Linked DNA regions of Homo sapiens. The protein of the gene in region 1 interacts with the protein of each later gene in a pairwise test. Each region holds a gene or a part of one and is shown in the gene's direction. Other genes may lie near its edges.

Region 1 (6,382 bases):
CTCTCTGACAGTCTTTCAAATGAAGGGAGCCTGGCTGCTTCATTTTTATGGAGGGTTGGAAGTGCTTAGTGGCAGGCACAAAGGTTCATTTTACATATTGTTTATATCCTTCTCAAAAGCGTCTAGGCCATACAGACAACAAATCCTTTCAAACAAGGGGAAAAGTACAAAGGTTGGGTGATTTCTGGGGAGCGTCAGGGAAGGTAGTGGGGGGCATCCTGGCTCCTCATCAGCAGAAACTTACTACAGTAGAGCCACAGGCTGGGCAAAAGACCTCATGGAATCCAAGATGAAGGGAATATCGACAAATATTTGTGCGCACCTGCACCTAGTACAGGCTGGGTGCTACTCAGGTGCTGGGAATGCAGAAGTGAACAGAGTAAGACAAATGTCTCTGCTGTCAGGAGCTTTACCTCTCTTCTGGATGTCGGTGGTGGGGACGGGGCAGGTGTGGTCAGACAGATGGGAGACAAACAACTGAGCGAGGTACTTCCAAACATCTGAGGGTGGGGATCACAAGGTCCCGGCTATTTTGAAGGGGTGGTCAGGAAAGGCTTCTCGGAAGAGGTGGCATTTGAGCTGAGACTCAAATGGCAAAAATGTGTACACATCAAAAAGGCTAGTGCATGTATCTTCAGGTGTGGTCAAGGGGCCAAGGAGGTGGGCTGGGGCCAGATTGCATAGGTCCTTGTGGATTATGGTGAAGACACCAGCTTCTCATCTGCTTGAGGTGGGGAGATCGTGAGCCGGGGAGTGCCATGATCTGGCAGCTGCGTGGGGAGTGGGGATGAATGGATGGAGACGAGGATGATGGTGACAAGTCCATTGCTGTGGTTCCTTGAGACAGGAAGCCAGCTCATAGCAGAGTGCGGGCGTGGATGTGAAGAGATGAGGGTACACTAGGGCTAGAGCCACCAGACTTACTGATGGGTTGCATGTCTGTGGGAGAGAGAGTGAGAAGTCAGGGACGATGGCTTTCCACTCTGTGGCTGAAGCCCCAGGGTGGCGGGTGGTGCCATTTTTCAAGCCAGGAAATATTGGTTGGTGAGAATTTGGGGTGGGAGAAGGTGTGACGGAGGGTTCTGGTTTTGCACACTAAGCCCACGGTGCCCAGAAGATGCCCGAGGGGAGGCAGCAAAGCGAGAGTGGGAAATGCAGAGGTGGCAAGTGCAGGCCGTGTCTTGAGAAGCTCTAATGTGCAGGGGAGCCGAGAAGCAGGCGGCCTAGGGAGGGTCACGTGTGCTCCAGAAGAGTGTGTGCATGCCAGAGGGGAAACAGGCGCCTGTGTGTCCTGGGTGGGGTTCAGTGAGGAGTGGGAAATTGGTTCAGCAGAACCAAGCCGTTGGGTGAATAAGAGGGGGATTCCATGGCACTGATAGAGCCCTATAGTTTCAGAGCTGGGAATTTCTTTCCCTGAAGCTGAACTCCAGAGCTGCATTCAGCACAGGCACCGCCAGTTGTAAGGAGAATCCAGGTTTCCCAGGAGAGGGGTTGGTGCTGGGATGAGCTGACCGGGGCAGGGCTGGAAAATAGGGCTGTGACCATCTGTGTAGTGCGTGTGGAGGTCTCAGGGAGGGAAGTGTGCTCTCCCTGCGAGAGCTGCAGGCAACACTGGGAGCTCAACAAGTCTCCCTGTCCTTAGGGAAGACCTCAGAAGTGCTGAACGCTGCCAAGGTGCTTCTCATTGAGACACAGAGATGCAACAGCAGATATGTCTATGACAACCTGATCACACCAGCCATGATCTGTGCCGGCTTCCTGCAGGGGAACGTCGATTCTTGCCAGGTAATTCAACATTTTTATTCTACCTTTGGTCCTTACCAGATCCTACTGAACCCCCCATGAGAGAGAGGGCATTCTTGGGGTCAGCAGAGCCTCCTCAGTGACACGGAGCCAGCTCGGGGCAGTCATGGGAAGTGACGGCCACAAACAGTGCGAACGCTTCTGGTGGCAGAAGGAAGTACAGTCAACAAATCACACACACCCTCTGAAAAACCGGTATTTGGTAAAAGTGCCAGTGGAACAGAAACAAGTATTTAGACTATTTTAAATTATGAACGGCAATTTATTTAGTAACTTTTAGCTTGAACAGATTAAAATTCAGGATGGGGGCTATCTCTTTGGGGGTTACATCTCTGTTACCATCACCCCTTGATGGTGGAGATTCGAAGCCCACACAGTCACTCGTAACTCACACTGCGACCCCCGCCCCCCAACTCCTCTAGGCCTGGTCAGTGGTGTGCGGCAGATTGTGACTTGATTTTCTGCTCTCTGTACCTTGCTGTGTCCCACAGGGTGACAGTGGAGGGCCTCTGGTCACTTCGAAGAACAATATCTGGTGGCTGATAGGGGATACAAGCTGGGGTTCTGGCTGTGCCAAAGCTTACAGACCAGGAGTGTACGGGAATGTGATGGTATTCACGGACTGGATTTATCGACAAATGAGGGTAACTATCCTGTCCTCCTTCTGACTGTGTTCTCCGATTCCTCGAGCCAAAGCCAGACATCTGTTAGGCGTGGTTCTGCTGCTGGAAGCTGACTGGTGACCACTGGTCAGCATGAAGCAAACTCTGCTTCCTCCAGCCACAGCCCCATCCCCCCAGTGTCCACCCATTGCCCATTGCCTCTCACTGGCTTCACTTGCATATTTCCCCTGGTGTTTGGATGAAAAGCGCTGGGGCTCAGCTTGTGTGAAATTCCTTGGTGCTCTGCCAACCACACTTCGTTCTGGCTCAGCTGACTCAGCTGTTCCACCCAGGCCACCTCACATCAAACTTTTTTTTTTTTTTTTTGAGATGGAGTCTCACTGTGTCGCCCAGGCTGGAGTGCAGTGGCACAATCTCGACTCACTGCAACCTTTGCCTCCTGGGTTCAAGTGATTCTCCTGCCTCAGCCTCCCAAGTAGCTGGGACTACAGGCATGCGCCACCACGCCCAGCTACTTTTTGTATTTTTAGTAGAGATGGGGTTTCTCCATGTTGGCCAGGCTGGTCTCGAAGCCCTGACCTCAGGTGATTCACCCACCTCAGCCTCCCACAGTGCTGGGATTACAAGTGTGAACCACGGTGCCCGGCCTCACATGAAACTTTTGATTTATAGAGAGCAGAGGGAAGAGCCGGCTGTGCCCATCCTTTTCTGGGGCCATCGAGTGGCTCCTGGGCAGCCCCCAAGGTTAGGAAGGGCAGGAGCAGCCAGGGTTCTCTGATGCCCCAGACTCAAGCACGAGGGAAGGTCTCAGGGGTTCCATGTGAGCCTCATGGATGTCTCTGCTTAGCAGAGCCCTGGCTTTGGGCATTGTCCAGATAGGGGGTGAGAACCAGATCTTCTCATCTCCAGGACCTCAGACGTATAGTTTTCTCAGATTTCTGTGCTTTCTGGGGCTGGGCTACTAGTGGAAGAAAGCAGTCTATTCTGTCTTCTCCCAAATCTCCCAGATGCCCAGTCTGTTGAAGGAGGAGCAGAACCAGGGGGCCTTTCCCGCTGAGGCCCGACCTGTGTCTCCTTCAAATGACACGCGGGACTCAGGGCCTTCCCATGACCATGGGGCCCAGGGGGCGTCACCTGGCCCAGGGCCCAGTGCTAGAAACAGATGACCCCAGGAGGAGGAGGCAGGGCAGGAGGGAAGCTGGCAGGGCTGGGATGGTCAGCCAGGCTGAGGGGCGGACTCGCACCAGGATGGAGCTAGGAAATGATCCAGGTGTGTTTGGCGGCTGCAGGTGGGTCCGCATGGCTGTGCAGGGAGGGAAGGGCTGCGTGGCAGGAGAGCAGCCGGGGGAGGCCCAGACTCTGCTGAAGAGATGCCTGTTGTGCCGGCCTCCACATCCGCTGCCCGCTCCTTCCGGAGCTCCTGCCCCGCCATGCTCAGCCTGACTCTGACCAACACGTTGGAGAGAAGAATGATCCCTTTGTGCTATTAAGCTTGCTTATTTGGTTTCTAAGTGCTTCATGCGAACCTAGAGGAAAAAATTATTTTCCACCTTTGTTTGTCTTAAGAAAATAACACACTTTTTTTTTTCCTATTTGAACAGGCAGACGGCTAATCCACATGGTCTTCGTCCTTGACGTCGTTTTACAAGAAAACAATGGGGCTGGTTTTGCTTCCCCGTGCATGATTTACTCTTAGAGATGATTCAGAGGTCACTTCATTTTTATTAAACAGTGAACTTGTCTGGCTTTGGCACTCTCTGCCATTCTGTGCAGGCTGCAGTGGCTCCCCTGCCCAGCCTGCTCTCCCTAACCCCTTGTCCGCAAGGGGTGATGGCCGGCTGGTTGTGGGCACTGGCGGTCAAGTGTGGAGGAGAGGGGTGGAGGCTGCCCCATTGAGATCTTCCTGCTGAGTCCTTTCCAGGGGCCAATTTTGGATGAGCATGGAGCTGTCACCTCTCAGCTGCTGGATGACTTGAGATGAAAAAGGAGAGACATGGAAAGGGAGACAGCCAGGTGGCACCTGCAGCGGCTGCCCTCTGGGGCCACTTGGTAGTGTCCCCAGCCTACCTCTCCACAAGGGGATTTTGCTGATGGGTTCTTAGAGCCTTAGCAGCCCTGGATGGTGGCCAGAAATAAAGGGACCAGCCCTTCATGGGTGGTGACGTGGTAGTCACTTGTAAGGGGAACAGAAACATTTTTGTTCTTATGGGGTGAGAATATAGACAGTGCCCTTGGTGCGAGGGAAGCAATTGAAAAGGAACTTGCCCTGAGCACTCCTGGTGCAGGTCTCCACCTGCACATTGGGTGGGGCTCCTGGGAGGGAGACTCAGCCTTCCTCCTCATCCTCCCTGACCCTGCTCCTAGCACCCTGGAGAGTGCACATGCCCCTTGGTCCTGGCAGGGCGCCAAGTCTGGCACCATGTTGGCCTCTTCAGGCCTGCTAGTCACTGGAAATTGAGGTCCATGGGGGAAATCAAGGATGCTCAGTTTAAGGTACACTGTTTCCATGTTATGTTTCTACACATTGCTACCTCAGTGCTCCTGGAAACTTAGCTTTTGATGTCTCCAAGTAGTCCACCTTCATTTAACTCTTTGAAACTGTATCATCTTTGCCAAGTAAGAGTGGTGGCCTATTTCAGCTGCTTTGACAAAATGACTGGCTCCTGACTTAACGTTCTATAAATGAATGTGCTGAAGCAAAGTGCCCATGGTGGCGGCGAAGAAGAGAAAGATGTGTTTTGTTTTGGACTCTCTGTGGTCCCTTCCAATGCTGTGGGTTTCCAACCAGGGGAAGGGTCCCTTTTGCATTGCCAAGTGCCATAACCATGAGCACTACTCTACCATGGTTCTGCCTCCTGGCCAAGCAGGCTGGTTTGCAAGAATGAAATGAATGATTCTACAGCTAGGACTTAACCTTGAAATGGAAAGTCATGCAATCCCATTTGCAGGATCTGTCTGTGCACATGCCTCTGTAGAGAGCAGCATTCCCAGGGACCTTGGAAACAGTTGGCACTGTAAGGTGCTTGCTCCCCAAGACACATCCTAAAAGGTGTTGTAATGGTGAAAACGTCTTCCTTCTTTATTGCCCCTTCTTATTTATGTGAACAACTGTTTGTCTTTTTTTGTATCTTTTTTAAACTGTAAAGTTCAATTGTGAAAATGAATATCATGCAAATAAATTATGCAATTTTTTTTTCAAAGTAACTACTGCATCTTTGAAGTTCTGCCTGGTGAGTAGGACCAGCCTCCATTTCCTTATAAGGGGGTGATGTTGAGGCTGCTGGTCAGAGGACCAAAGGTGAGGCAAGGCCAGACTTGGTGCTCCTGTGGTTGGTGCCCTCAGTTCCTGCAGCCTGTCCTGTTGGAGAGGTCCCTCAAATGACTCCTTCTTATTATTCTATTAGTCTGTTTCCATGCTCCTAATAAAGACATACCCAAGACTGCAATTTACAAAAGAAAGAAGTTTATTGGATTTACAATTCCACATGGCTGGGGAGGCCTCACAATCATGGCAGAAAGCAAGGAAGAGCAAATCACATCTTACATGGATGGCAGCAGGCAGGGAGAGAGTTTGTGCACAGAAACTCCCATTTTTTAAACCATCAGATCTTGTGAGACCCATTCACTATCACAAAAACAGCACAGGAAAGACCCACCCCCATGATTCAATTATCTCCTATCAGGTCCCTCCCACAACACATGGGAATTATGGGAGCTACAAGATGAGATTTGGGTGGGGACACAGAGCCAAACCATATCATTCTGCCCCTGCACCCCCCAAATCTCGTATCTTTACATTTCAAAACCAATCAGGTCTTCCCAACAGTCCCCCAAAATCTTAACTCATTTCAGCATTAAGTCAAAAGTCTACAGTCCAAAGTCTCATCCAACACAAGGCAAGTTGCTTCCACCTATGAGCCTGTGAAATCAAGAGCAAGTTAATTACTTCCTAGATA
Region 2 (7,028 bases), 3.4 Mb from region 1:
GGTTAGTTAACTTTTCTCAGGCTTGAAATACCTTTTCAAACTCAGCTGAGACAGACTACCCTGTCACTTCAGTTCATTATGGTTAATATTATAAATTGTTAATAAATTCTAAGTCACAGATAGGAACGTGTGGCTGAAAGGAGACTTGGAGAGGGCGGGACCCTGTGGGGTGGAGGCAGGGCCACAGGCTCTCCACACGCCAGGAGCCAGCAGCCTGGCCGAGGCGGCTTTCCTCCTTATGCTCCTGTGTCCTGAGGTTGTTCCCCAGGGGCGAGGGAAGGCTGCTGTGCTGGGTGGGTTCTGTGTCTGGGGCGGCCCTAACTCCAGGTGCTTGAATCTCCAGTGAACTTTGAGGCGCTGATCATCACCATGTCGGTAGTCGGGGGAACCCTCCTCCTGGGCATTGCCATCTGCTGCTGCTGCTGCTGCAGGAGGAAGAGGAGCCGGAAGCCGGACAGGAGTGAGGAGAAGGCCATGCGTGAGCGGGAGGAGAGGCGGATACGGCAGGAGGAACGGTGAGGTGGTGGTGATGCCCGCTGGGAAGGTTACTTCGAGGGGATTCAGATCTGCAAGGCCATGGAAATCACATGGATACATCCTGAGTTTTCCTCAGTTTTTAGAAATTAAGAATGTGTATAGTGCCCAGGGGATCTTCTAGGTCGTGGTAGAGAGCGAGAGACTGTGATGGGAACCTAGCAGTGGCTGCGAACCTTGCTTCTATAGGCTTCCTCGCCCGGTGTCCTCCCATCGGTGCAGTAAGGCTGAGTCTGTGCGCGGTGACACGGGTGTGTGACGGCTGCTAAGGCGGCTCGTCCAGGCCCAGCATTTGCCAAGAGCAAGCTGAGGCTCAGAGGGGACAGCGTCTGACTGTGGCTGGGTCAGCTCTCCTGTCGCCCTTTCCCTGGTGACACAGCACTCTCCTGAGTGCTTGCTGGGGCTCTGGGGCAACCCCAGGAGGAGGTGGTGTAATCCACACCTGGCAAAGGAGAGGACCTGAGGGGCCAACTGTCAGGTTGGCGGCGGGCGAGGGTGGAAGCGGGACAGATTTTCCATGTAGTCACCTTGAAGTCACATGCTACTAAGTAAAAGCTGACAATCGCATTTTCCTCACCATCTTCAGAACCTGGTGTATGATTTTTACTGTGTTTTCTTTGTATGAAAAAAGCTTTTTAAAAATCACGGTATTGGGCATTTGAATTGCTTTTATTGAAAAGAGTAGAGTAATACATTGGAACGGCCTTTGAAGACTGGGTTCGTTGTCACCTTGCCTGTCCTGGTGGGTATGTGGCCTGATGACCAAGCTTGTCCTCACCCTGGTTTCACTCTGGGAACTGGAGGGAAGCCACCAGAAGAAACCTGGCGCCCCCACTGAGGGACACGGAAGGGCGTGTCTAGCAGTTACACCACCGTGCGCTGTCGTTTGGTGCTCATAATGTTCCTCTGTGTTTTAGGAGAGCAGAGATGAAGACAAGACATGATGAAATCAGAAAAAAATATGGTAAGGACTGGTCACGCCTCCTTTTTGTCTGGTTGGGAGGCGATGGCACGCTGTCTCGGTCCTCGTTAGTGCCAGTGTGGCCTGAGATGGGGCTGTGGGTTCACCCATCGGAACAGAAGGACGTCTCTCCAGAGAGGAGCAGCTGGCGGTTGTCCCCAGCGGTTCTGTGGTGAACTCACTCCTAAGAATATCTTTATCTCAGCCAGTCGTCTTCATGAAGTCTGTTTTCTCAGATAGCTGTTTGCTTATCGAGTCCCAAGACTTCTGGGCTGGAAGTCTGCAGCTGTTCTGCCGTCGTGTTTGGCTTCCTGTGGGCACGCCTGCGTAGCCGAGGTGCTGTGAGTTTCAGGGCGGCCCTCTCATCCTCGGGAGCGTTGCTCGTTGCCATCTTCTGAGTGTGGCAGGCGCTCCTTCCAAGCACTCCCCAGCACCGGCCCTGCTCCTTCTCGCCCAGCCTCGGCGTTCTGTTCTTGTTTGGTTGTGTCTGGAGAGATTTTGGAGAGGAGCTTTGAAGGAGCCAGAATGAATGTATTTGCCAAGTGTAAACCTTTTATTTAGTTGGAGTGAATTGGAAATACACATTACGTTATCTATACTCCCCCAAACCACGTGATGTTCACTGCTTAACACTGAACACCACCACCCAGCCGTGCTTCGTTGATTCTGTATGATTTTAAAGTCCGCAAAGAGTCTAGTGTCTCCCGCGCTGGGTTTGTGGTTGTGTGGTGTCATGGGCGTCTCCCGCGCTGGGTTTGTGGTTGTGTGGCGTCATGGACATGGTGGGAACTGACTCCTCGCCTGTGCGAGGTGCGTGGTCCTGGGTTCATGGCAGCCGTGGGCCTCAGGAATCTGTCGTCCTGCGCCCACGGTGCTTTCCTTGAAGCAGTATATTAAAGGCTAAACCTAATTGGAAAATTTCAGAGCCTTTTCTGACTAATGCACGTGTTTTGAGTCTTCTGTTTGTTTTAGGGAATATCATATATTTGTGGTATTTTAGGGTCCCACCCACTGGGGGCATGAGGACGTCGCTGCGGTTCTCGGTCATCGGGTGGGGGGTGGACGGCAAAGCCCAGCAGCCACTGTGAGCGGCGCCTCCGTCAGGTGCAGGTGATTGGCGTTGGGTTCCCTCTCATGGGGGCTGCAGAGGCCCCATGCTGCTGGTGCCCTGGACTGTAAACGCTGGGTGGCTCTGCCCACTGGCCGGGACGTCCCCTCCCTGTCAGTTCTGGCCTCCTTGGAAAGTCACCTCCATGTGACTGTGCTGTGACCTGAGGCCACGTGAGTCCTGCCGGTCTCGAAGTGTCGGCTTGGGGGCGTGAGGCTGCCTTGGCTGCTGGCCTCGAGATGCCCAGTGGCTGATAGAGGCTTTTTCCTATGTGTTCCCGCCCATCAGTCTCCTGAGTGCCGTGTGCTTGGGCGCTGACTCTCTGGGTTCTCTTCACTGCTGCCTTGTCCTTGCCCCACCCTCTCTGTCGCCTGTTGTTTCCCGGTGTGTGTCTGGAGTGGGTGGTGACCGGGTACCTGCGTGTGACTGTCATAAGGAGCAGCACCAGGGTTGCCCTCCTCAGCGAGTGCATGCCTGTGTACGTGGAGCGTGGGCCCAGCAGCATCTCTGCAGGCCTTGGCTGGAGGCATTGTGCTTTCCTTGAAATGGAAGAGTCAAGAGCTTTTTGGCACCTAATTTTTTTTTTTTTTTTTTTTTGAGACGGAGTCTCACCTTGTCGCCCAGGCTGGAGTGCAGTGGCGCGATGTCAGCTCACTGCAAGCTCTGCCTCCCAGGTTCACACCATTCTTCTGCCTCAGCCTCCTGAGTAGCTGGGACTACAGGTGCCCACCACTACGCCCAGCTAATTTTTTGTATTTTTTAGTAGAGATGGGGTTTCACTGTGTTAGCCAGGATGGTCTCAATCTCCTGACCTCGTGATCCGCCCGCCTCGGCCTCCCAGAGTGCTGGGATTATAGGCATGAGCCACCACACCCAGCCAGACTAATGTTAATGTAAATAAAAGACAAGGTGGATACACACACACGCACACGCGCACACACGCACACACTGCCCAGCACCTGTTATCACCAAGCACAAGCTGTGTTTAAGTTGCTCGACCTTTACTGTGCCCTGACTCCCAGCGGGTGTGAGGCTGTGGGTGGCCGGCCAGGCTCTTGGAGTGGTGTCTTCTGTGTCAGGGCCCTGATTGACTTGCACTTGCCATTTTGGTGGTTAATTTGGCCCTTTAATTGCATTGATGAAATGAGCTTTTTGTGCCAGTTTGTAATAAAGCCATTGAATGGCCTGTGCTTTGGAAAGCCTCGGCTAGTTAGAAGAATTCCTAGGAATTCCTGATGGGAGAGTGCGAGAAAGCATGTGAGTCCACCTGGTGCAGTTATATAAAATACCAGCACGCACGCAAAAACCCTTCTTTTGGTTTTGGTTTTCCCTCTAAACTGGAAGTAGACTCAGGAGCGAGTTTTTCAATAAGAACTTAACCAGCCTCCTTGCTAGTATCTGATGACTCTTTCCCAAAACCGACTTTGAGCCTCACTCCCAAAGCCTGATGCCTGTGGCCCTCCTTGACAGGCAAGAAAGAAACATGGCTAGGCCCTTCCTTACCATCCCTCTGCTTCCCCGCCGCCTCTTCCACCCAGCCCCCAGAATACATGCAGTGAGTAGCTTTGTTGTAATCGCTGCAGATAATTTTAGTGTACAATACAGATTGTTAAAGGGAGAGAGAGGCCAGGCACGGTGGCTCACGCCTGTAATCCCAACACTTTGGGAGACCAAGGTGGTGGATCACCTGAGGTTGGGAGTTCGAGACCAGCCTGACCAACATGGTGAAACCCCGTCTCTACTAAAAATACAAAAATTAGCCAAGTATGGTGGTGGGTGCCTGCAGTCCTAGCTACCCGGAGGCTGAGGCAGGAGAATTCCTTGAACCCAGGAGGCGGAGATTGCAGTGAGCCGAGACTGCGCCATTGCACTCTATCCTGGGCAACAAGAGCAAAACTCTGTCTCAAAAAAAAATAAAAAATAAAGGGAGAGAGAGTGTGTGTATGTGTGTGTGTTTCTGCAGTGTGAAGGGAAAACTCCTGGTCTTTGGGTAAGTAGCACAGGTTTACTCTTATGATTAAATACACATTTTATCCCAGTTTTGTCAGAGTACTCGAGAGTTAGATTGATGGTCATCTTAGTTCTTTCTGTAGCCTTAATTCCAAAGGTTTAAGAGCAGCTATAAGCACAAAGTAAGGTTATTTTGTTTAATAGTAGCCATCCACTGTGGAACTAGCCAACCACTGTGGAAAGAAATACTTGCCTTAAATTTCTTTTCTTCGCCGAGCATCAGGAAGTAAGTGCTTATCTCTTAGGATCTGTTAGAGTTCTTGTTTCTAGTAAATTTTATTTCAGTTTTAAAGTTTAAAGTGGTTTGACTTCAAAAAAGGTTAAGCACTGTATGAGAGCCTGCTTACAATGCCCGTTGTTGCTATAGCCTCAGTAAATCTTCTTATAAAGCTTGGTTTGTATGGCTTTCTAAGATTTTGTTTCTGGTTGAATGAATGAAGTTATGATTCAAGTTTATTTTGTTTCAGGCCTGTTTAAAGAAGAAAACCCGTATGCTAGATTTGAAAACAACTAAAGCGCTCCAGCACATCAGTCCCGACGCTTCCTGTGAGGTGCACGCTCCGCAGCCCAGCCCAGCCGGGAGACCACGTGGCCATTGCGGTCTCCTGACCTTGGCCAGTGAACCTGCCAGCCTTCCAGGACAGGCGGCCGGAGAGCTGCCCCTGAAGGACAGTCCTCTCGTCTTGCAGACTGGTGACCTTCTATTCCCTGTTCATCTCTGTTTCTAGATTTAGTCACTTGAAATAAGAAATCTTTGGGGTTTGGGCTTTTTTATACTCTTCTCAGTTTGTGAAACGCTAACTGCACACGAAGCCGCCTGACGGCACCCAGCGCTGTGGCTGTCATTCTCCCAGGGCAGAACCCTGCGTTTCTCTCTGTCCACTAACAAGCTTCACACGCAACACAGGGAAGTCGGTTTGACTTTTGTCATGAGGAGAACTGACCAGCCCTCATCATTCCCCATAAAACCACGGACAGCGTCTGTGTGCGCATCTTGAGTCTTCACACCTGTTGACTCACACGGCTTTTGCTGATGACACGGGGCTCCAGTACACAGTCTGATAAGGACTTAACGTCCTAACCTCAATTGTATTAAATAGCATTGGGGAATAGCTAAACCTTTTTAAAAAAATTTATTGGATTTTCCTCCCTGCTTAAAAGATTTCACCAGAAAACCTTCATATAAAAATTCAGGCCCTTTTTGGACAATTTTTAAAATTTGTATCTTTACTAGAACATGAGAATCTTTTTCCCTTGGAAGCTTGAATTATAAATGTGGTGTTTGGCCTGCCTCAGCAGCACCAGTTGACTGCTCGTGTGCCAGCGGTGTGGGGAGGACGGGGCAGGACGCTGCAGCTCTCTCCAGCCCTGTTGGCATCCTCAGTGCCTGCAGGCCTCTCGCTGCCTGTTGGGCTGTCTGGGGGGTGGCCATTTAGGGATCGTGGGGACGGGGTCCACCCCAAGAAGAAAGAAAGGCCCGTCCACAGGCCCGGCTCTGGGCCACGTGCCCCGGAAGCAGGTGTGTCCAGAGTCAGCTGAGGGCTCTCCCCACACCACCCAGCAGGCGCTGGTGCTCCTTCTGCCTCATGGGACCAGTCCAGCTTCCAGCCGCTCTGGCTCGAGGGTGGTCTGACCACTTCCTTCTGAGTGGGCTTCTCTGGGAGCTCTCCAGTGGCACTGCTGGACCTGCCCACGTTTCTGTAAAATCAGGATACGTGGCTTTAGTAAGCAGACCAAGCGCTTCGTGGCAGGGAAAGCAGCGTGCGGGGAAGTCACTGAAAAGTGCTGCCTAAGGAAGTTTGGAAATAGTCCCTGTTCCAGATTGCCTTGAATTTTAAAACATTTTGCTTTGGGAAAGTAGGTCAGCAGCACCTAAGATCAAGGATGCGTTCCATTTTCACACTTCACAGTCATGAAAACTGAGAAGACTGTCTTCAGCGTGAACTAAAGTTCACAGGCAGATCACTGATCCAGAACACTTCAAGAACTCGTCAAACAGCTCGATAAGCCTTTTTGACTGTGTACATCTGTACCGGGAATAACATTCCTAGGCTGAAATTTCCACAAAGAATAGAACCTGTACCCAGTTCTTCAGGCTGATTTCCCTGACCTCTTGGGCATTTGTATTTGTAGTAAAGTATTGCAGAGATTCCTAAGTATTTTATAGCAGCCATCAAAATTGGACTTTGTATTGTTTATTCATAAAAGACACTTGGTAATAGACTTCAGTGAACTCTGTATGAATGCAGTAGTGTGTGTGCAAAATCCGCTTCCTGAGCGTAGGGTGCTGAGCTGGCGCTAGGGCTCGGTTGTGAAATACAGCGTAGTCAGCCCTTGCGCTCAGTGTAGAAACCCACGTCTGTAAGGTCGGTCTTCGTCCATCTGCTTTTTTCTGAAATACACTAAGAGCAGCCA
Region 3 (7,028 bases), on another chromosome or scaffold:
CTTCCCACCTTGTCCTCCAAAGGTGTTAGGATTACAGGAGTGAGCCACTGAGCCTGGCCTAAATGTGATCTTAACATTTAATTTTTGCTTATGTTGCTAAACTGCCTGGGGAAAGCTGCTTCATCCTGGTTGGATTTACCAGTACTCCTCCCCCTTGAAGCTATGTCAGAAGGAATCAATTATCTCTTTGATTTTTAACCTAAGGTCAACAACTGTTTTGAATTTATCTTTATGACTGCAACAAGTAAGTGGCATAAGGATGTGCCACCACTACCAAGAGTCAATCTATTGAGAAATCAAGTTATTCCTGTGCCAACAGGTTATTTTAACAAATATCATCTTAAAGTGTTATTTCCCATTCTAATTTCCAAAAAAAAATACATGAACAAGAAATGGGAAGCAACAACAGTTAACTTGTGAGTCAGCAGTATCCTGATTTTCTTCGAAGAGGTTGTGGTTATATTAACTCCTTTCTTGTTTGTTTCCTGTTCTTAACAGCTGTTTGATGATAAAGTGCTTCCAAGAAACAGTACTCCCTCAATTGTTTAAATTGTTTTGATCTACCTAGTGTACTTTTCCCCTAAAATTCATGATGAAATGGTAGAGTAAATCTATCTATATCTCTCTCCCCAAGTTCTGTTTAACTAGATAATTGATTATCCTCAAACTAAATATCCATGTCTATGTGCTGAGGTATTAACACATGATTCAATATGATATTAAGGTAAAAATGGAATAAATAGGCTGAGATAGCTGAAAGACTTGGGCTGCCTGTGTTTCGAGGAGCTATTTAGTTTTTGTTGTTGTTTGTTTTGTTTTGTTTTTTGAGACAGAGTCTCCCTTTGTCACCCAGGCTGTAGTGCAGTGGTGCAATCTCAGCTCACTGCAACCTTCACCTCTGGGGTTCCAGCGATTCTCCTGCCTTAGCCTCCATAGTAGCTGGGATTACAGGCAGGCGCCACCACGCCTGGCTGATTTTTTGTATTTTTTGTGGAAACGGGGTATCACCATCTTGGTCAGGCTGGTCTCAAACTCCTGACCTCAGGTGATCCGCCCACCTCAGCCTCCCAAAGTGCTGGGATTACAGGTGTGAGCCACCACGTCCGGCCTCAAGGAGCTGTTTTCACAGAGACAAACTTGTTCCATTGGTTAAGCAGCTGAAAGGAATGGATTGTCTTCTAGAATTTCCCAAGATAAACCTTTCCTCTTACCAGTGAGGAACAATTTTACAAATAGAAATTAATATTGCTGGTGTGTAGTTTCCCACAGAATATTTTTGTTACATTTTTATGGGGTAACACATGACAAATCCTATTCATGTAGTTTAATAAGCAAAATAAGCCTAAGAGATTGAGCAAAGGTTTGCTGACCAGTGTCCATACCCTACAGGTAAGTATTATTTACTTAATTTTTATAGGCCTGTTATGTGCTAGGCACCATGGTAGGTGTTGGGAATATATTGGGTACAACTTTCAGTTTCTGCTTTTATTTTTGAAATGCTAAATATTTTTCTGAGTATTTGAGATATTTGAAAAAGACACCCAGACAACATCCTGGTGTGTTTTTCAACACACAATAAAAAGGTACGACAAGATAATAGAAAGCTTTTCTGATTATTGAATTTAGGAAAATACATCATTCGCTTTAGAGTGAGTACCAAAGACTTAAGAAAAGTTAAACATTGGGAAATACAGTAAATTAAACATCTAGAAAAGACTTACCAGTTTTCAGCCTTTAGTCATAGCATGCTTTGGTCTCACTTGAGCATTGTAATTCTAGAGTAGTAAGTATTTTCACCATTTGGGCTTGTTGATTGTAATTGTGGGCTCCTTTCTACTATTTCTGTTCTAAACAGAGGGGATTGTTTGGTAAGGTAGGTGTCCCTCTTTTTGTTTATTTTTCCCTCCCAACAGAGAAAGTGCTAAATAAGTAAAGATTATTTTAAATGTTTTTCATTAACTTATAAAAACTGCCTAGATCATTGTTTTCCCAGAGAATTAAAAACCTTACTCCTATATGTAAATGACTTTTTCAAGCAAATAAGTTGGTGTGGAAAAGTCAGCATCTACCATTTTTTTTCTGTGGTAACAAGTGTATCATCAAACATTGAAACCTTTTGGGAATGTTTAAAACCTTCTCTTGAGGGTAAGTAAAAATTCAAACTGGGAAGAGAGTCTTCCAGCCTTGGCAGAGATACAAATTTAGTTTACCTTGTGAAATCTAACACTTCAGGATATTTCCATTGTAATTTTGTCATTACGGAACATAAGGCTTTTTTCTTTGTAACTTTGTGCATCTTTTGAATGTTGACGTAGCAGATAAGATAGCTATAGGACATGACCACATTTTTCTTTTAGAAGACTGGTTGATGTGAATGGCTGACATAATTGATTTTATTTAATAAATATCTTTTAAAGTCACAGATAGTATTGTTTTAAAAATCAAATGGTATAGACGGACTTACTATGAAAAGCATTAGTCATTTTCTGCATTTCACCCTCTTTCCTCTGCTACTGGTTTTGCTCTGTCACCCAGACTGGAGTGCAATGGTGTGACCTCGGCTCGCTGCAACCTCCACCTCCCAGGTTCAAGCGATTCTCCTGCCTCAGCCTCCCAAGTAGCTGGGATTACAGGCGCCTGCCACCACATCCGGCTAATGTTTTTGTATTTTTAGTAGAGACTGGGTTTCACCGTGTTGGCCAGGCTGGTTTTGAACTCCTGACCTCAAGTGATCCGCCCACCTCGGCCTCCCAAAGTGCTAGGATTACAGGCGTGAGCCACCGCGCCCGGCCTAGTGTCAACGACTTTTAACTTTATTTTTAGTACTGCTAGTGATGCTCCGTATCTCTTAAATATGTTACTGCAAAAAGAAAAGAAAAGAACAGAAATATGTTACTGCTGTTTGTTGAATAACTTTAGACATCTATTGACTTGAATGTAAATGAACTAAATACTCGTGTATACCTCTTTCCTTCTATAGTTTTCACTGTTTTGTTGCATTGTTAACCAGTTGATCTTTACCTTACCTCAACTTCTATTTCTTACTCCATCACCAGAGGGAGTATCTCTAGATTTCTTACTTTTAAAATGAGGATATTGGACTCACGTGATTCCTTGGAAAAACTAAAACTAAAGTTCATGGCATATGTTAAAATACGTAGTTGCATAAAAGGGCATTCACCAAGTTCAGTGTTTGAAAACATATGCCGAGCTATATGAGAAGGGCATAGTATAGATATGAAACAAATCAAAAGATTGCATAATTCATTTACGGGACAAGTTATTGAATAGACTTCTTTAAGTGGCTCAGGAATTGTGGCATCAAACTATTGAGAAGGAAATATGAAAGACAGCACACCACCTGACTCTGCTGAATCATGAGTTTAAATATTATTGATTTACTATTATTTACGGTCTAGAATCAACCTCTATCCAAGGGACAGAAAATTTAATTATGAGTCTGTAATAAAGAACATTTTTATTTCTTACCCCACTTCAAATTTTTTAATATAATCCATAGTATGAAATATATTTTCAATCATAACCTGAGATACTATACATGCAACTGAAAACAAGTATTTTCACTGAACAGTATCCTTACTATAAACAGTATTTAACTTTCCCAGAATATATGTAGTCTGAGTATTCTCTTTTCTTTAAAAAAAAAAAAAAATTGCAACCCTGTAAATGAATTTCATGACCAGACCATTGTACTAAACATCAAGTATGAACTAATATATAAGATTATTACGCCTTTTCAGTGGATAAAAAGTAAAGTGGAAATTAAGTTATACATTTTTCTCTCTTCATAGGACATTGGCTCCCTGGATTATCAAGAGTTTGTAGTTGACATTGAATCCAGGCTGAGGATGGAAGGTGTGGAACTTAAAGAAGAATGGCAAGATGAAGATTTTCCGATGTGAGCAATGCTTTTAAAAGAAAACAATTTTAGAGCAAAAGTTCAAAATTTCTTTATCGAGATGTTACTTTTTTTTTTTTTGAGACGGAGTCTTGCTCTGTTGCCCAGGCTGGAGTGCAGTGGCGCGATCTCAGCTCACTGCAACCTCCGCCTCCTGGATTCAAGCAATTCTTCTGCCTCCACCTCCCAGGTAGCTGGGACTATAGGTGTGCGCCACCACGCCTGGCTAATTTTTGTATTTTTAATAGAGACGGTGTTTCACCATATTGGCCAGGCTGGTCTCAAACTCCTGACCTCGTGATCTGCCTGCCTTGGCCTCCCAAAGTGCTGGGATTACAGGTGTGAGCCACTGCACAGCTGAGATGTCACTGAGAAACTCAGTAATACAAGGCGATCATTTGATACTAGGAAGTAAAGTTTCTTCGGAACAGTTAGATTGATTCTCTTGTATCTTACTTTCCAACCAAGTATATATATAATCTTCTATAATCTTTCATTTTTGTTTTGGTCACTTAAGTTTGCAAATTTTTGCTTTTATAATAAAGTGTTTTAGTGTGGTTTGTTTGTTTTGTTTTGTTTTTGTTTTCATTTAAACAAGATCTGAGGGATTCCTCAGAGAAGGAGGTCTTTAGTTGTCTTTAAAATGTTTCTTTAATTTTGTGGCCAGGTGCGGTGGCTCACGCCTGTAACCCCAGCACTTTGGGAGGCCGAGATAGGCAGATCACTTGAGGCCAGGAGTTTGAGACCAACGTGGCCAACATGGTGAAACCCCGTCTCTACTAAAAATACAAAAAATTAGCCAGGCTTGGCGCTCGCCTGTAGTCCCAGCTGCTTAGGAGGCAGAGGCACAAGAATCACCTGAACCCAGGAGGCAGGGGTTGCCGTGAGCCAAGGTCGCGCTGCTGCACTCCAGCTTGGGCGACCGAGCAAGGCTCTATCTCAAAAAAAAAAAAAAAAATTTGTGGGTTCCCCCCCACCAAAAAAAAAAAAACCTTACTAAGTAAATTAATAAGGATTTTCTAGCTTATCTGGCCAGCCACCTTGACATGTTTGCATTTGTATTTACAATTATATTGGCACCAGGTAGGCTAATGAAAAAGAGAGCAAAGGCAGACCTTAAGTTTAAATAGTGCTTCCGTGCCGTACTTGTCAGAAGACATCCTAGTGCATAATCAGGTGCCTTAGCAGTTGGATAGCTTAGCAGTTGGACAGCTGATCGGAGACCTGAGTCACTGTTGCATATGGTGGTGATAGTAAATATAGGAATGCTGATCTCAGAAGAATTGAACCATTGTTACTGTAGTCTCGTGAGTAAAAATTGAGCTTCATACATTGCATCATACATCACATTATATTTGTGCATTTCAGTCATATTTGTTTAAAATTGTTACATGTTTTATAATTGTATAAGAGCTGTTGCATAAGGAATTTATATCTACTTTTATGTGTTACTTATATATAATAAGTGTATAAGTCAGCTCTGACAGTCAGAATTTTTACTTTGAAAGTGTAGCCAGGCATAGCACGTCACGCCTATAATCCTAGTGCTTTGGGAGGCCGAGGCAGAAGGATTGCTTGAGACCAGCCTGGGCAACATAGCAATATCCGGTCTCTACCAAAAAAACTTTTAAAATTAGCTGGGCATGTTGGTGTGCCACTGTAGTCCTAGCTACTCAGAAGGCTGAGACTTTATCTTAAACACTGCTAGGCTGGGCACAGTGGCTCATGCCTGTAATCCCAACACTTAGGGAGGTCAATGCACGAGAATCGTTTGAGCCCAAAAGTTCAAGGCCAGCCTGGGTAACATAGCAAGACCCTGTCTCTACTAAAAATTAGCCAAGCGTCGTGGCACGCACCTGTAGTCTTAGATACTCGGGAGGATCTCTTGAGCCCAGGAGTTAAGGCTGCAGTGAGCCATGATTGTGCCATTGTATTCCAGCCTAGGTGACAGACAGCAAGACCCTGTCTCAAAAACAACAACACTGCTTTATTCCATTTTCCAAATAATTATTTCTATAAGCTGTATGTTTAATAGATTGAACTTCAAAAAAAAATTCTTTCTTAATTTCTGGATTAAAAAGTATGCCTGTGTCTTCTAGACCTTTACCAGAAGATGATAGTATTGAAGCAGATATACTAGCTATAACTGGACCAGAGGACCAGCCTGGTAAGAGCTTGACACTTACTTTCATTGAAATTATGGACTTTGTGTTATTTTTTAAAACACGTTTCTTTGTCCAAAAAAAAAAAAAACTTGAGTTTTTATTCCATCATAGAAGTCAAAGTATAAGTTGAACATTGAGGAAAGCATTTTTAGAATGCTTTAAAAAAAATTCCAAAAACATACACTTGGTTTTTGGAAAGTTTTACAGTAAAGGGGTGGAGGAGATCATTTTTAGTGGTAAGAGGTATCTATAAGGTCTGCCTCTATTTAAAAGACATTGATACTTTATTGATCTCTTGCCAACGATGTAGAAGCAATAATGATCAGAATAAAAATTTTGTGAATAGGTGCTTTGAAATTATGTTCAATTAATATTATTTTTTCCCAAGAATGGGGTAGTTAAAATTTTTCTTATTCAACTTTAGCATCTAAGCATTCCTTGTTACGTATCTTTTTCTTTATTTTCCAATTCCAGGCTCACTAGAAGTTAATGGAAATAAAGTGAGAAAGAAACTAATGGCTCCAGACATTAGCCTGACACTGGATCCTAGTGATGGCTCTGTATTGTCAGATGATTTGGATGAAAGTGGGGAGATTGACTTAGATGGCTTAGACACACCGTCAGAGAATAGTAATGAGTTTGAGTGGGAAGGTAAATGTTTCACTGTTTTTAATCTGATCTTTATTAATGTACTAAGGGATTTTGTTTGAAATACATCATTCTTTCTAAAGTTCATATATTTGTTACTAAGATAGGAAATTGTGCTAACCCTTGAATATTCTCAAGGACTTAAAAAGTGTGTATAGAGTACACCAGTGGCTTTTTTCCCCTCTTATTTGCCCACTGCTCTCATGTTTTTTTCATAGCTGTTTCAAAAATATTTCTTGATAATTATGGCATGCTCTTTTTTAGTCAATCAAGTAAGAAACTTTTGAAGAGACATA
Region 4 (7,028 bases), on another chromosome or scaffold:
AGGCAGGAGAGTTGCTTGAACCTGGGAGGCAGAGGTTGTGGTGAGCGGAGATCGTGCCACTGCACTTTTGAGACTCTGTCTCAAAAAAAAAAAAAAGAAAAGAAAAAAGAAAGAAAGCATAACAACTTATCAGACCTGTGATTCCTTTTTTTTTTTTTTTTTTTTTTAACAGACAGGATCTTGCTGTGTCACACAGGCAGGAGTGCAGTGGTGCAATCTTGGCTCACTGCAGCCTTAACCTCCTGGGCCCAAGTTATCCTCCTGCCTCAGCCTCCTAAATAGCTGGGACCACACATGTGCACTACCATGCCCAGCTAATTTTTTTTTTCTTTTTTTAGTGATTGGGGTCTCACTGTATTGCCCAGGCTGGTCTCTAACTGCTGGTCTCAAGTGATCTTCCTGTCTTGGCCTCCCAAAGTGTTGGGATTACAGGCATGAGCCACATGTCCAGGCAATTCCAACATTTTTATTGCTTAGGATGAGCCTCAAGTAAGTGGCAGGAAGTTTTTTGACACCTTTATACAGTCCTTGCACATGACCTGGGCATACCCTCAATGTCTTAGTAACTGTTTCTGTCTGACCTGTTCAGAAGTACGGCAGCCCTGGGTGACATGGATCACAGGTGTGTGTGCCCGCACCTACTACTGCACTGAGACGTTGAAACCCTGAACATGGCACAACTGAAGTTTGGGAAACTCTAATCTAAAATAACATTAACTTGAGCCTCTATAATCAATGTTGCAAATGTATCTCCAGGTCAAGACCTGTGAGACTGGGATGGGTAGCAGCAGCACAGCTGGCTGTGAAGAGTGGCGCACAGCACTCAGGGCAGGTGGCCTCCACCAGCTGGATGCCTGGAGCTGCTCCTTCTGTTCTATGGCCTGTGGCTGTGGCCTCCAAGCCTCTGCCCTTCTCCCTGCCTTCACTGGTAGCCCTGCCAGGGAGCTAAGCCTGCGCATCTCCCAGAGTCTGGATGTGTGAAAGGTTGAGGATAATCCCTTTCTTCCCCTTCGAGCCAGTGTTGCAACCCTACCCCCAAGTACAGAGTTTAAGCCCCTAGCCTGGCTCCTTCCCAAAATGCAGCTCCTCTTGGGCTTCCAGATTCCCCAGGCAGATCCAGTTATTGGCCCCTTTTTTTCCACCTGTGCTGCATGTTGATGGAAATGTGAAGATGATCTGCCAAAAGAGGAACTAAGACTTGTCCAAACCGAATGCAAATTCAGTATAGCTCAGGTTAAGTAGAGCGAGATACAGATAGAATGAGATGGGAGTGGAGGTAAAAACACTTATGAATAGAAGAAGGTCTATAGGCAAAGTACTCTGGGAGTGTTTTTGTTTGTTTGTTTGTTTTATTGTTTTTAAAGACATATATATATATAAGCAGTTATATATTATATATATATTATATATAATATATAATAGCAGTTATATATAGAGAGAATAGCAACTATATATGTAATAGCAGTTTTAGGTTCATGGCAAAATGGAGAAGGAAGGCCAGAGATCTCCCATATAGCCCCTTGCCCCACATGCATAGACTCCCCATTATCAACTTCCTCCACCAAAATGGTACATTGTTTTTTTACAACCGATGAGCCTTACATTGACACATCATTATGACCCAAAGTCTACAGTTTACATGAGGGTTCACTCTTGGTGTTAAACATTCTATGCGTAATAACATGTTTCCACCGCTATAGCATAGTATAGTATAGCATAGCATAGCATTAGCATAGCATAGCATAGCATAGCATAGCATAGCATAGCATAGCATAGCATAGCATAGCATAGCATAGCATAGCATAGCATAATAGAGAAGTTTCACTGCCCTAAAAATCCTCTGCATTCTGCCTCTTCATTGCTCCTTCCCCTCTGAACCCCTAGCAATGACTGACTTTTTGTTTTGCCTTTTCCAGAGTGTCACATAGCTGGAATCATACAATATGTAGCCTTTTCAGATTGCCTTCTCTCACTCAGTAATGGCACTGAAGTTTCCTCCATCTCTTTTCATGGCTTGATAGCTCATTTCTTTTAAGTACTGAATAATATTCCAGTGTCTGGATGTACTACTGTTTATTTTATTCACCTACCGAAGGACATCTTGGTTGCTTCCAAGTTTTGGCATTACGTATCATTCTGTATAAAGCCACTCAGCTGGGCGCAGTGGCTCACACCTGTAATCCCAGCACTTTGGGAGGCCGAGGTGAGTGGATCACTTGAGGTTAGGAGTTCGAGACCAGCCTGGCTATCGCTAACATGGTGAAACCCCACTTCTACTAAAAATACAAAAATTAGCCAGGCATGGTGGCAGGTGCTTGTAATCCCAGCTACTCGGGAGGCTAAGGCAGGAGAATCGCTTGAACCCGGGAGGCGGAGGTTGCAGCCAGCTGAGATCGCACCACTGCACTCCAGCCTGAGTGACAGAGTGAGACTCTGCCTCAAAAAAAAAAAAAAAAAAAAAAAAAAAAGCCTGTGTAGGTTTTTGTGTAAACACAAATTCTGAATTCATTTGGGAAGATACCAAGGATTGCAATTGCTGGATCATATGGTAAGAGTGTGTTGAGTTTTGGAAGAAACTGCCAAACTGTCTTCCAAAATGGCTATACTGTTTTGCATGTCCACCAGCAATGAATAGGTGTTCCACATTCTCATCAGCATTTGGTATTGTCAGTGTTCTGGATGTTGGCCATTCTAGTAGCTGTGCAGTGATATCCCATTTTTGTTTTAATTTGCATTTCCCTAGTGACATAAGATGTGGAGAATCTTCTCATATGCTTATCTGCTACCTTTGCATCTTCTTTAGTGAGGTGGCTGTTCAGGTTTTTTGCCCATATTTAGTGGGGTTACTTATTTATTTATTTATTTTTTGAGAAGGAGTCTCGCTCTGTCTTCCAGGCTGGAGTGCAGTGGCCCGATCTCAGCTCACCGCAACCTCTGCTTCCCGGGTTCAAGCGATCCTCCTGCCTCAGCCTCCTGAGTAGCTGGGACTACAGGCATGCGCCACCATGCCCCGGCTAATTTTTGTATTTTTAATAGAGGCGGGGTTTCACTATGTTGGCCAGGCTGGTCTCAAACTCCTGACCTTGTGATCCACCCGCCTCAGCCTCCCAAAGTGCTGGGATTACAGGTGTGAGCCACTGCGCCCGGCCTTATTTTCTTGTTGTTGAATTTTAAGATTCTTTGTCTGTTTTGGATAACAACTGTTTATTAGATGCATCTTTTGCAGATATTTTCTCCCAGTCTGTGGCTTGTCTTATTCTGTTGACATTGCCTTTCACAGAGTAGAAGTTTTCAATGTTAATAAAATCCAGTTTATTATTTCTTTCATGGATTGTACCCTTTGGTATTGTATACAAAAAGTTGTAAGCATATTCAAGGTCATCTAGATTTTCTCCTATATTATCATTTATGAGTTTTATAGTTTCGCATTTTACATTTAGGTTTATAGTCCACTTTGAATTAATTCTTGTAGAGGGTGGAAGGTCTGTGCTTAGATTCATATTTTTACACGTGGATGCCCGGTTATTCTGGCACCATTCGTTGAAAAGACTATCTCTGCTACATCGTATTGTCTTTGTTCCTTTATCAAAGATCAGTTGGGTCTATTTCTGGGTTCATTATTCTGTTCCATTGATCTATTTGTCTATTCTTTGTCCAAAACACATTGTCTTAATTATTGTAGCTTTACAGTAATTTTTTTTTTTTTTTGAGACAGAGTCTTGCTCTGTCACCCAGGCTACAGTGCAGTGGCGCAATCTCGGCTCACTGCAACCTCCACCTCCCAAGTTCAAGCGATTCTCCTGCCTCAGCCTCCCGAGTAGCTGGGATTACAGGGGCCCGCCACCACATCTGGCTAATTTTTGTATTTTTAGTAGAGATGGGGTTTCACCATCTTGGCCAGGCTGGTCTCGAACTCCTGAACTTGTGATCCACCAGACCCTACCTCCCAAAGTGCTGGGATTACAGGTGTGAGCCACCATGCCTGGCCGCTTTACAGTAATTCTTCAAGTCGGGTAGTGTCAGTCCTCTGACTTTGTTCTTTTCCTTCAGTATTTTGTCACCTATTTTGGGTTTATTTTATTTTATTTTATTTTTAGACAGAGTCTCACTCTGTCTCCAGGCTGGAGTGCAGTGACGTAATCTTGGCTCACTGCAACCTCCGCCTCCTGGGTTCAAGTGATTCTCCTGCCTCAGCTTCCCAAGTAGCTGGGACAACAGGTGCCCACCACCACGCCCAGCTAATTTTTTGTATTTTTAGTAGAGATGGGGTTTCACCATGTTGGCCAGGATGGTCTCGATCTCTTGACCTCATGATCCACCCACCTCAGCCTCCCGAAGTGCTGGGATTACAGGCGCGAGCCACTACGCCCTGCGGGTCTTTTGCTTCTCTATATAAACTAACTATACAATTAGTTTGTTGATATTCACAACTGATTTTGATTGGGATTGTTTGAATCTATAGTGAGTCCTCTTATCCATAAACATGGAATATCTATCTATCTATTTATTTTATATTTATTTATAAATTTATTTATTTATTTATTAAGATGGAGTCTTGCTCTGTCACCCAGGCTGGAGTACAGTGGCACAATCTCAGCTCACTGCAAACTCCGCTTCCCAGGTTGAAGCAATTCTCCTGCCTCAGCCTCCTGAGTAGCTGGGATTACAGGTGCGTGCCACCATGCCCAGCTAATTTTTGTATTTTTAGTAGTGACAGGGTTTCACCATGTTGACCAGGCTGGTCTCGAACTCCTGACCTCAAGTGATCCACCCGCCTCAGCCTCCCAAAGTGCTGAGATTACAGACGTGAGCCACCGCGCTTGTCCCCTTCATTTATTTAGTTCCTTGATTTATTTAATCAGTTTTGTAGTTTTCCTCATAATAGATATTGTACATATTTTGTTAGATTTATACATAGGCATTTCACTTTTTTAGGTGCTAATGTAAATGGTAGTGTTTTAAGTTTCAGATTCTACTTGTTCAGTGCTGTTTCATAGGAAAGTGATTGCATTTTATGTATTAACCTTGTATCCTGCAACCTTGCTATAATTGCTTATTAGTTCCAGCAGATTTTTGGTCAGTTCATTTAGATTTTCTACATAGACAATCATGTCATCTGCAAACAGAGATAGTTTTATTTCTTCACTCCCAATCTGTAGTCCCTTCATTTCCTTTTTCTGAAGGAACTACATTGCATTTACTAGGACTTCCTAGCAAAGACTGGGAAACTGCTAAGACTTGTTCATACTGAATGCAAATTCAATGTATGAAGCAGTGGTGACAGGAGACATCCTTGCCTGTTTCTAATCTTAGTGGGAGTGCTTCTACTTTCTTATCATTAAGTATGATGTTAGTTATAGGCTTTTTGTAGATATTCTTTATCAAATTGAGGAAATTATCTAGTGTACTGAGAGTTTTTATCATGAATGGGTGTTGAATTTTGCCAAATACTTTTTCTACATCTATTAATATGATCATGTGATTTTTCTTTTTTAGTCAGTTGGTGTGATTAATTACATTAATTGATTTTCTTTTGTTTTTATTTTATTCTCTTTTTTTTTTTTTGAAATGGAGTTTGGATCTTGTTGCCCAGGCTGGAGTGCAATAGTTGATCTCAGTTCACTGCAACCTCCACCTCCCAGGTTCAAGTGATTCCCCTGCCTCAGCCTCCCGAGCAGCTGAGATTACAGGCGGGTGTCACCACGCCCGACTAATTTTGTATTTTTAGTAGAGACAGGTTTCTCCATGTTGGTCAGGCTTGTCTTGAACTCCCAACCTCAGGTGATCCACCCACCTCGGCCTCCCAAAGTGCTAGGGTTAAAGGCGTGAGCCACTGCACCTAGCATTAATTGATTTTCAAATGTTGAACCAGTCCTGCATACCTGGACTAAACCCCAGTTGGTGTGGTGTATAATTCTTTTTTTTTTTTTTTTTTGAGACGGAGTTTCACTCTTGTTGCCTAAGCTGGAGTGCAATGGCATGATCTCGGCTCACCGCAACCTCTGCCTCCCGGGTTCAAGCAATTATCCTGCCTCAAGGTCCGGAGTAGCTGGGATTATACGCATGTGCCACCATGCCCGGCTAATTTTTATATTTTTAGTAGAGACGGGGTTTCTCCATGTTGGTCAGGCTGGTCTCGAACTCCTGACAGGTGATCTGCCCACCTCGGCCTCCCAAAGTGTGGGATTACAGGCGTGAGCCACCGTGCCTGACCCCATCCATTTACTTTTAATCCGTATGTGTCTTTTTTTGTTTGATACAAGGTCTTACTCTATCACCCATCACCCAGGCTGGAGTGCAGTGGCACCATCTTGGCTCACTGCAGCCTGAAATGCCTTGGCACAAGCAATCCTCCCACTTCAGCCTCCCAAGCAGCTAGGACTACAGGCACAAACCACCACACCCAGCTATTTTCTTATTCTTTGTAGAGATGGGGTCTCACTATATTGCCCAGGCTAGTCTTACTCCTGGCTTCAAGTGATTTTCCCATTTCAGCCTCCTAAAGTGCTGGGTTACAGGGGTGAGATACCACACTCAGCTGATCTATATGTATCTTTATGGTTAATGTGAGTTTCTTGTAGACAACATACAGTTGAGTCTTCTTTTTGTGTCCATCCTGACAATTTCTGCCTTTCAATTATGCACTTAGACCATTGACATTCAAAGTGATTACTGATATAGTTGGATCTACCACATTTGTTACTGTTTTTCTATTTGTTACCCTCATTCTTTGCTCCTATTTTTGTCTTCCACTTTTTTTTTTGCCTTTGGTGGTTTTAACTGAGCATTTTATATGTTCCTGTTTTATCTCCATTCATAGTGTATCAGTTGTACTTTTTTTTAACTTTTTTTAGTTATTGCCCTGGAGTTTGCAGTTTACAAGTACAACAAATCCAAGTGCACTTTCAAATAACACTATACCATTTCATGGATCGTGTGAGTACCTTATGATAACAAAACAATCCTAATTCCTCCATCCTGTTCCACGTATCATTGCTGGCATTCATTTTACGCACATATATGTATAC

Evidence for each region.
Region 2: the proteins of TMPRSS2 (region 1) and PTTG1IP interact in binary tests that used the Homo sapiens proteins (3 or more experiments, as listed by UniProt).
Region 3: the proteins of TMPRSS2 (region 1) and BNIP2 interact in binary tests that used the Homo sapiens proteins (3 or more experiments, as listed by UniProt).
Region 4: the proteins of TMPRSS2 (region 1) and NINJ2 interact in binary tests that used the Homo sapiens proteins (3 or more experiments, as listed by UniProt).

The regions. Positions count from the first base shown.
Region 1 is NC_000021.9:41,463,799-41,470,180, reverse strand, and holds the end of TMPRSS2 (transmembrane protease serine 2), read left to right. Parts: intron 1-1,642; coding exon 1,643-1,785; intron 1,786-2,294; coding exon 2,295-2,447; intron 2,448-4,027; coding exon 4,028-4,039; coding exon of another isoform or gene 4,040-4,061; 3' UTR 4,062-5,876; downstream 5,877-6,382. UniProt on the Homo sapiens protein: Plasma membrane-anchored serine protease that cleaves at arginine residues. Participates in proteolytic cascades of relevance for the normal physiologic function of the prostate.
Region 2 is NC_000021.9:44,849,680-44,856,707, reverse strand, and holds part of PTTG1IP (pituitary tumor-transforming gene 1 protein-interacting protein isoform 1 precursor), read left to right. Parts: intron 1-343; coding exon 344-515; intron 516-1,451; coding exon 1,452-1,498; intron 1,499-5,080; coding exon 5,081-5,127; coding exon of another isoform or gene 5,128-5,341; 3' UTR 5,342-7,028. UniProt on the Homo sapiens protein: May facilitate PTTG1 nuclear translocation.
Region 3 is NC_000015.10:59,679,299-59,686,326, reverse strand, and holds part of BNIP2 (BCL2/adenovirus E1B 19 kDa protein-interacting protein 2), read left to right. Parts: intron 1-3,812; 5' UTR 3,813-3,869; coding exon 3,870-3,919; intron 3,920-6,018; coding exon 6,019-6,086; intron 6,087-6,558; coding exon 6,559-6,735; intron 6,736-7,028.
Region 4 is NC_000012.12:653,429-660,456, reverse strand, and holds part of NINJ2 (ninjurin-2), read left to right. Parts: intron 1-7,028. UniProt on the Homo sapiens protein: Its role in unclear. In contrast to NINJ1 paralog, does not mediate plasma membrane rupture (cytolysis) downstream of necroptotic and pyroptotic programmed cell death.